Regions from separate parts of the Homo sapiens genome. Here region 2 is linked to region 1. Evidence: fine-mapped expression QTL. A gene starts in region 1. The other region holds a variant in brackets. All regions are shown on one strand. Distances are between the middles of the regions.

What was found. PIP is the estimated chance that this variant, and not a neighbour inherited with it, causes the effect. A credible set is the group of variants that fine-mapping cannot tell apart.
Region 2: its variant is the best candidate, but not a certain one, in a credible set for the expression of DENND1B in cerebellar hemisphere (GTEx, PIP 0.54).

What each region holds. Positions count from the first base shown.
Region 1 is chr1:197,773,178-197,778,377 of GRCh38, forward strand. It overlaps DENND1B (DENN domain containing 1B), which reads right to left and starts at 2,303. Exons shown (of 23, transcript NM_001195215.2): 1 at 1,962-2,303. The coding sequence starts at 1,978. RefSeq lists silencers at 1,651-2,160, 2,311-2,510, 2,802-3,096 and an enhancer at 3,471-3,520.
Region 2 is chr1:197,738,111-197,743,310 of GRCh38, forward strand. All of the region lies in intron 2 of DENND1B (DENN domain containing 1B), which reads right to left. Among named protein-coding and RNA genes, the nearest start is that of DENND1B, 35 kb to the right of the region's middle. The variant T/C (reference allele first, on the strand shown) is at 3,006.

The sequences.
Region 1 (5,200 bases):
ATGAGGTGCCTTGTCCACTTCACAGAATAATAGTGAGGATTATAAATCAAATAACATATGTGCAAGTACTTCATTAAGTACTAAGTGCTACAAAAATGCAAAGTATTGGTTTTATCTTATTGGATCAAATTTAAAAGCCAGAGTGTCCCTAAGTGTCATTATACCCTGCCAACAGAGTTTGACACAGGTTCTCAGGCTGTCTCCAAAGGACTTGCAATATAAGTGTAAATGATGAATACATGGTTCCACCTGCCAAGTTCTAGATCACCATAAAACATTGATAATGCTCCATGAATGTGATACGTTGCATATACTTTTCTTAAAATGTATTTACTGTACTTATGCATATTTAAAGTAGCAAACTATTCATAGCTCTAAGGCTAGCAACATAAAAAGCCTTCTTTTTATCCATTATCTTTGGAGAAACCAGCCATCTGCTTCCATGTTAGATTTTCCCACTAGAAACTGTAAGTTTACTTTGCTTAATTCAGAAGTTATTGACTTTTTTACTAACTTGCCATATTTGCAAAATTTCAAAGCAACATTGGTTAAATTTCAAAAAGTGAACTGAAATATACTGAGACACTTTTTCTTCATAACATTGCTGTTTAAATCTCTCGTTCCATCATAAGGTAAAAGATTAAGTCTGTTACCACAACGGCCAATGTGTTAATATCTCAGTTATTCCTGCTAACAAGACCTTAGTGCCTTTGTACATTGGCTGTATTTAATATGTACTTCCTTCAAGAAACGAATGCCAGCTCTGACTTTAAAAAAAAGCATTTCTTTTTTTGGAAGCTTTTCTTATAAGATATGAATCTGGAAACATAGGAAGTGACAAGACATATAAATTAACATGCAAATATACATTTTTTTAGCCTTTCCGCTATTAACTTGTTTCAATGGGAATAATCTGGGCTCAGATGACTTCCTCCCTCTTAAAACAATTAATGTCAAGAAGCATACTATTTTTACTCACTTACCCTGCCCACCATGATGTCAAACACACTGAAGAAAATAATTCTATTACATAATTTCCCTCTTTCCCTAATATTCTTTAGAATTTCTCTTAGGTGTAAAAGTTAAATATTGACTCAGTTTTACTTCTGTGAAATTCAAACGGCCTTTCACAATAATACAAATATACATGGCATTATTTTAAACTTTTTGAGAAGGAGATAGTAAAGGGTGGGTAAGCGAAGTAAAAAGGAATTCTTTCCAAAGTTAAGTTTCAGAAGAAAAATATAAAACTCATGCCTCTAAGATACCTAGAAACAAAATCACCACCGTTATTAAAATTGCTTTTTACCTAATCTCCTGAGCAAAGTAGTCGTTGATAAATACTTTAGCACACACATAAAAGTACCCTCTAATTGGATACCGTTTTGCAAGAACCATGCATCTACAGTTGCTGCATAAAGAAACACCAGAGACCAATCTAATTTTATAAGCAGAATCATAAGAAAACATCCAAGACAAAAGTAACAAACGGACTTAAGAAAACACCGGTTATATTTAATGCTCAGAGAGCACTCGGAATAATAACCTCTTAACCTCAACGCTGACTCCCTCCCGGACACCACACGCACACAGGCAGCCCCAGGAGAGTCACATCTGACACACTCGGGGGAAGCACGAGAACCCCTCAGCGGCGGTGTCAGGGGCCGCCCGGCCTCCCCTGTCCCCCGAAAGGCGGGCGTCGACAAGGCGCTAGTGGCCTCTCCGGGAGGAGCCGCGCCAACCACGGAGGGCCGGGGACGCAGGGCGGGCAGGCTTTGCGGCCTAGCGCCGTCCCGCCGGCCGGCCAGAGGCTTGGGGGCCGGACCGCACCCCCAGCCCGCCCGGCCAACCTCGGCCGCCCGGGGAGCCGGTTGAGCGCGGAGGCGCGGAGGAGCCGAGCTGGCCTGGGAGGGGCCGCCGAGGGACGCCCGCCCCCGACGCGCCCGGGCCCCCCCACTCACTTGGTCCTGCAGTCCATGGTTACATGTCGGTGTGGGGCTGTCCGTCCGGCCCCCGCGCGCTGGCCTGGAAGCCCGCAGCCCGGCCGCGCGAGGGTCGCGCCGTCCCCGCCCACGCCGGCGGCCACACAGGGAAAGAGGCTGCTCACAGCAGCCGTGGCGGCGGGCCCATGTCGGCTGCGCCCCCGGCACTTCCCCGCCTCCCACCCCACCCACCAGAGCCTTTCTGTGACAGCAGCGGTGGCGTGGCCGCCGCCCCCGTCTCCGCCGGTAGCCGCCACCAAAGCTGAGGCCTCTCAGTTCCTGCGACCGGGGCCGCCCGCTGCGGCTCCTGCACCTTCTTGCAAATCAGGAAGTCGCCGGGAGGGGGAAGGGGCGCGCGGGGACGCGCCCAGCGGCTTCACCTGGGCCGTGCGGCTCGCAAGTCGGAGACTGTGGAGGAGGCGGGGGCCAGGTCCCCGCGCCCGGGCGGCCAGAGGGTGCAGGGGGAGCGCTAGTGCCTGCTGGGATGGCCCACGTACCGCTTTGCCACCTAGCCAGAAAGGCAAGGTGCCCCCTGTGTCCTCAGCATGAACCAAACCGGCTTCCTTTCTGGGTCCAGTCCAGATTCCAGGGCGTCGGGGCTGCAACCCCACAAAGGGCGAAGTACCTGGAAAAGTACCTCGACCTGCAGTGTTTTCCACACACATACACACGGACTTGGGTTCCTTTCATTTCATACTACAAATTCAGAGCTCAAGTTGATGCCCCTGGCTCTTGCGTCACTCCAGCTGTGGCCTGCTTACAGCTCTCTGAAATCCAGAGCTACCCCCTCCTGATTCAGGAATGTTCAGACATGTGCACCTGCTAAATAGCCCTGTCAAGTAGCCAAATGGTAGTGCCCCACTTGTCTGCGCATGTGGGAGGCAGACATTCCTATACCACAGACTGCAGTGATAACCAAGGACTAACTTTTGAACACATGTACATAGTCGCAGGCCTCATAGTCTGGCAGTTTAGGCGAGTTCAGAGAGGGCACCACTGAATAAGCGTGGGAGGGACTGATTTACACAGCCCTAAAGCACATGTGAAGCAGGTTATGTGCACTCTCACCCAGTACTTGTCATAGGTGTGTGATAGATACTTTCATCAGCATTTTACAGATGAAGAAACCAGGGAGTAATGGCAAAGCTGGAGTTCACACCAGGTCTATCTGATGCTGATTATTTACTTCTACCTCATATTGCCTGTCTCCCTCCTCTGCTGTCTCATATTTAGGATCTACTGAGAAGACAGGTAGAAAAGTCTTATGATGGACATTCAAATGACTGTGGAAGGCCAGGCTCTTACACAGAGATCTTCTGGGAAAGGCCTTCTCCCAGCTAACACTGCCACCCTTGACACATAGCCACAGTGTTTCTTCCAAAAGGTGGTTACTTCAGACTTTATTCATGCAGAAGTTAAGATGATGAGAGGAAACCAAATGTGGTATGAATGTAGTGTGAGTCATAAGACATAAAAGTCAGAAAAGGAGTCTTAAGAATTAAAAAACTCAAGAGTCAGAGAACCTGAAGTTGCACTCAGTTATATAACCTTAAACTTTCTTGCCAAAATTGGGTACTACTTGGTCAACAGGATCAGAAATATTGTATAGCCATGGGCCTGTTAGTAAAAAATGAGGACGGGCCATAACTGGGAAACAAACAAACAAAAAAAAAATGTGTTTATCATAAAGTGTTGTCATAGCTTGACTCGGGGTGAGACACTTCAGTTTCTCGGTTCCTACATTTGTAAAATGGGAATTATTACTTGTACATCACATGAGCAGTGTGATGTTCAAGTAAAACAGGTGCTACAAATTTGTATTATCTTTTGAGAAATTATTCTGTGAATTTCAGTTTCACAATTAGGCAAACTATACTACATAAGTTTTCTTTTCCCAAATAAAGATTTTTCTGCATAAGTGACCATACTCCAAAGCCTTGAAAAAAAAAATTCGTAAGCTAAAAGCCACTTCTGCCCCAACTGTTACTGAATTTCTCAAACTTCTCCTTTCATTATAATTAATTATTTCCAAAGAAAGGAACCCTACTTGGGGTGACCATATTGAGGACTTTTTAATTTGGTGTGAGGAGATAATAATACAATTGTTTTCCTCATCCATTGTTGGGATTTTATTTTAAATGACAGTCATACCCTTGAACAGTATAAAATTGTTCTTCATTCCATTTATGTTAAGTACATCGAGGGAAATACTACACATTCGCATCCCAAAGCAAATCTTTTTAAGTGAGCTTTTAGGCTGACCATAATGAAGAGATTTATCTGTTCTGTTATTACTGAAATAAAAGGGATAGGAACATAGGTGTACATGATCTACATGCATGAGGTGTTAAAAAATTAGAAAACAAATATCATACACTTACCTTGGTAATAGCTTTAATGAAATCGATGGTATAACTTTAGTAATACTCATTTCATATAGAACTTCCCATATGACTGATAGAGAAGTGTACAAAGGGCAAACCTTCAAATTAGTCTTAAATCTTCCCAAGATCATATTTCAGCAATGATATTTCCTACTCGACAATTAATATTAACAGTTTTCAGGACCATACCAGTCAAAGAACATAGTCTGTATTGTTGTCAAAGAACATGGTCTTTATTTATTAATTAATTTCTTATTAATTAATTAATTTAGTTAATTTTTTAAATGTTTCAAGACTTAAATGTTGTATGTGGTTTGTAAAGAATATATATTCTGCAGCTTTGGGGTACAGTGTTCTAAATATATGTCCATGATCAAATACGATGATTGTGTTGTTGACATCTTCTATTACTGAATTTGCATCTGCTTGACATAATTCAATTAATGGGAGAGATGAGTTTAAATATCCCAACATGATGGTAGATTTTTCTATTTCAGCCTATAGTTCTTTCAGGTTCTACCTTACACAGTTTGGGGCTGTGTAATAATATACACATCAGTTTATAATTTCTATATCTACCTAATAAATACAACCATTCATCATTATGTTGTTACTTTCTTTACCTCCAATCGTACTTTTGCCTTAGATTCTAAACAGTTTTCTTCTGAATAGTATTTGTCTGATGTTAGGATATCTCTTTTCATCCTTTTACATTCAAACTTTCTAAACCATCATGTTTCAAATTTATCTAAAATTTTTAGTCTTGATTTTTAATCTAGTCTGATCATCTTTAGCTCTTACATCAAACCCCTAGACAATTTGCATGTATTAAAA
Region 2 (5,200 bases), 35 kb before region 1:
CTTCTCCTCTCTGTCACTGATCCAGTATGAATTAGCATGCATGAGTACCCTCTGTTATATAACAGGACAAAGGGGAGTATCTAATATTATAACTGGAAAAGAAGCTTTCATGACAAATGATTTTGAACCAATGCTGAATTTTGAATTTAAGGTGCTATTTTTCTCATTTAGACATAGAAGTATTTTCCTTTCAAAGCCAAAAAATATCAACATTAAATCCACATAGAGAATGACAGCCAGGTCACAACAATTCCCTCGTTTCTGGGAACTACATCTTATACCCAGGGTGGGTTTTCAGTAGTTGCATCCACAATTGGTGAATGTGACCTCAGGCCAGAGCTGATAAGTCAAACACATGACCTAATCTGGCCAGTTTCTTTCTCATAGAAGACTTGGGTTATTAACTGTGAAACACAACATGGAAGATGCTGATGCAGAATCACTTTTTGGCAGAAAGATGACAGAAGATCCTCAGAACTTCCATGGTAACTATATTCCCAAACATTATTTACCCATGTACTTAGTTACCATAGCTTTTCTTCTAACCATAGATGCAGAATGTTAAAGCAGCACTTTTACATCCATAAACAGGACATCTGCTTCCAGCCAAGAGAAAGTACAAACTGTATTTGCTCTCTCTCTAACAACTAAAAATCTAAAAAAATACATTAAACAATTTTCAGACATTAGTAAATGCAGGACAGTGATCCCTGACAGAGATAAAACAAACAAGGTAAGCCTTACAATTGGTCTTAATATCTGGAGTTTCCAGGATGTGGCACAAGGTGGGAGAAACCCAGGCAGAGCCCAGTGGTCTTCCTGAGATGAGGTTGGAAGGCCAAAGCATCTAGACTCCACAAAGAGAACAGAGACGAAGCTGCACAGGAATAGAGCTCTGGAGAGCTGCAGAAGGTTCACCACCAACCCACCCAAGACTTTAGTGCTGATGATCAGTGCACACATATGAGGAAACTACCAGACACTGAGGAAAGAATCACCCAAAAGAAATGGGGGGGAAATCCCAGGATCAGCTGACATTCACACCACCCAGAGTGGGAAAACCTCATAATCAACAAGAGTATCCTGTACAGTACTCAGAGGGTAACACCTTAGCAGTGGGACAAAATCAGCACTGGACTGAAGATGACTCTGGTTTCACCTACCAAAGCTTAAAAGCAAGCCTCAAATGTTCAAACTGTTTCCAAATAACTTAACTGTAATCTAAAACAAAACCTTAAGTGCATATGGGACATATACGAGAAGAAATCATATAATGCACCATAAAGCAAGTCCTAACTGATTTAAAAGGATTCAAGCCATACCATGATATTCTCTGGAATTACATTATCAAAATATAACAGAAACATCACAGGAAAATCCCCAAATATTTGTAACTTAAATAACATACTTCTAAATAACCCAACGGTCAAAGAAGAAATCAAAAGGAAATGAAAATCTAAATGAACTCTAAATGAAAATAAAAACAAAACTGATAAACTGATCAAAAGAAAGGACTATTCTCTGTGAAAGACAATGTTAGTTAAAAGCATGAAAAGACAAAATACAGATGGGAGAAAAAAATGCAAATCCAACAAAGTCATTGTATCCTGGATATATTAAAATCTTTCAAAACTCAGTAATAAGAAACCAACCCAATAAAGAAAATATAAGAGAAAGAGCTGAACAGACATTTCACCAAAGAAGATATACAGATGGAAAATAAGCAAATGATTTCATCTTAATAAAACATAATTGAGTCTTAAAATGCTTCCACCAATTTCTAAGAAATCAGACCTTTACCTCTAAATTAGAATATGTAATGTGCTAAGATATTCTTAACAGTTCCTTTCAGTTACCCTATGAAAATTTTGCACTATCAAATATAATTTTGCATCAGCAAAGACAATCACTACAGCCCTGAACTTGTGTTTGATTTGGGGCTGGGCAGGCATATAACCTAATTATGAGCGCAAAAGGAAGGAGAGTGCGATTTTAATTCTGTTAAGTTGGTTAAAGTGAGACTCACTGACAATGAGCAAAAACTTGAAAAAGGTAAAGAAATTACTTGTGCAGATATCTTGGGAAAGTGTATTAGAAGTAAACAAAAAATGCAAACCCTTGAAGGAGCATGCTTGATGTTGTTCCAGGGATAGCAAGAAGCCAGTGTGGCTGCAGTTAAGAGAGCAAGGGAGAAAAGTGGGAAAGGATGAGGTTAGAAATGTAAACAAGGGGGATTTGAGCCAGTTATATGGAGCCTTGTGGGTCCCTGGCAAGTCTTTTATTTGAATGATTTGAAAAGGCAGAGGGATGAATAAAAAAGGAATTATGAGCAAGAGATCCCTATATGGGGAAGACTGAGTCTCAGAAAGTCAAGGTTTGAGAATTGAGGTTGTAGACAAATTTCTATTACTGTATCGAATATGCTACACAATATATTTTGAAAACTATCAAAAGGAAGATGAAATCCTTGCTTCAGTGAGTTGATAATGTAGTTGAAGAACTAAACAATAATACAATTAAAATGACAGAATGTTTAAATTACAAGGGGCTTTTGGATAGTCTATAGCTTTTGTTTACCTGAAGGAACTTGAGTCAAGAAAGGAAAAATGATTTATGCAAGATCATATAACTAGTTGTTGGTTCAGGCAGAACTAAATTGCCACCTTCATTAATAAGTTCTTTAAAGTCCAGTTTATCAATGGTATGAAGGACAAGCTGAAGAAAAGACTATACTTATGAAGCACTTTTGCAAGATAAATAAGCATTTGTCACATTCACTTGCTTTCCTGACTTCCAAATTTCTGTCCTACAATTTTGAAGGAAGGAGTGAAAAGCAAAGCTAACACCTATGTTGATAAGTAAATTTAGTAGATCAAAAGATAAAAATCCTTCTGTATTTTGATCAGAAAAGCACACAAAGCTTTTCATATGAAGACTATATTTTCTTCCTAAAAAAGAAAAAAAGACTATTTTCTGGAATTTCTCTAGGCTACAAAGAGAAAGGA[T/C]AAGACAAGTAAATCATTATCCTCTATGTTGATAAAGCTTGCTTCCTTCAAATCAAGATAAACACCGCTGGCTGGTAAAAAATAACATCTCCTGCCAGAGTCCTCTCACTGAAGCAGTAGTACTTCTGACATATCCCAAGATAGAGTAACCAATTAATTCATGTGCATATTCCAAAGATCATCACTTCCAACTCAACCCAACTAAGGATGTATTACCCAAAAAAGGGTTTAAAGCGATTACAATGATGCCATCCTTATTTATGCATATTTATAGAGCAAATAATCATTAAAGCAGTTTTAAACTACAAATATACTTTTAAAATTCTAATGTTAGAATATTAATCTTCAAAGTAGAACAAGCCTAATGTGAGAATGTCAATACACAATCTTTAACACATTTCTGCACAATCGTTTGAACCTAATTATCAAATTGACAATTTAAAGTAATTATAAAGTAACACAAAAACATACCTTTTATGCCATTACCAAAGATTTACTATTTAATAAAACTTCTAAAAGTAGTTTCAAATATTTAACAGGCACAAAACTTAAAACATTGGTATCTATACAATCTCACCAGGTAAAGAATTTAAAATTTCAGTTTCATAATCCTATACACAGAATGAATAAAATGGGCATAAACTACATACACTCAAAAAGAAAAAAAAGAACTAAAATAAACGTGGCAACCCACACCTATGGTATGCAGAAAGGCAGAAAGAACATTAAACTTCATTTAGAGATTCGATTTGCAGTCTCAGCTCTTCCACTTTATAACTTTGGAATCTTAAGTATGGAAGAACTTCACTGAGCTTTAATTTGCTCAATAAAATGAGGATAGCTACTGAACCTAACATAGAGAGTTGCTGAGAAAATCAAAATTAATTTAAAATAATATATGTAAAATCCCTTTCAATCCGTAAATTAGTACACAAATTTACATTACAAGGAGAAATGTTAAATATAATACAATGGCACTATTTCAAGTCTTGGTCGATACCATCTAACATAGCAATCTAATTTCTTTAGTAATTTTTTCTTTCAAAAACTCAGTTCATAAAATGCTTTATGTTATCAACTGTAGGCATATGTTTACCTAGAGGTAAATAACCACAAACTAATCTGTCATATAACATCCTAATTCTCATCATTACCATAACAATAATATCAAGGGACAGAATTTTTATACTTTAGTCTCATATTTCTACTGTGTGCTTTGTGGAACAAGACACATTTACTGAGTACCCACTTATATAATACTCTAAATAATTTTTAAAAGAAGAAAAGATAACATCTCTGACTTTACCAATCTTGCAGTCTAGCTGGCATAATACTGTATATTCATAAATAATGCAAATTAAAGTGATAGGAGACTTCACTTTTGGTCATGAGGCAGTAACAGGCACAAACCAGCTGGCCCACTATAAACAATGTAAAATAAAGTAAAACTGTACAAAATATTTGAAACAAATATTTTTAAAAGTTGAGCAACAGGAAAAGCAAGACTGTGGTCTCTGGGAAAAAAAGCACTACAATCTCCCTGGCTTTCTGTCTGAAGGCACTTTCAGAACTGTAGCACACAAAAAACTACAGTCTTTCTGAGCAGCGGAAAAAGAGAATAAAGTCTGGAGATGAAGCAAAATTTGTGGAAGATAATATCAAATACAAGGAGCATCAGAAATCTGTATAAGGGTCATATTAAGTCTCTGGCCAAACACTAGGTTGCATATGTGCAGGGTGACACTCTTGACAATGTCTGGCAGTGAATAGCTGAATGGAGATTCTGGTGGTCACATAGAACCAAGAGACAGAACAAGCAGATAAAACCATGGACATGTGAGGAATTCAACTGAGACACCTCAGAAAGGTCACACTGTTAGGAGACAATTCCAGGGGTCTCTCACTTCACTTCACTTCTTTAGAGCCCAGATAGATGACTGGGTTTTATTCCAGACTATCTTTTCCAGGATGACTGACTGACAAGGGAAGTAATCATTAACAAAGTTTTAAGTTATTAACATGATATTAACAAGATTAAATCAAACACCCTTAGAAAACAGTCTCCATCCCAAGCAGAGCGCACATTACCTTATAGCCTTGGAAGACAGAAATACAGATATACCTTGAAGATATTGCAGGTTCAGTTCCAGATCAACTCAATAAAATGAGTATCACAATAAAGCAAGTCACACAAA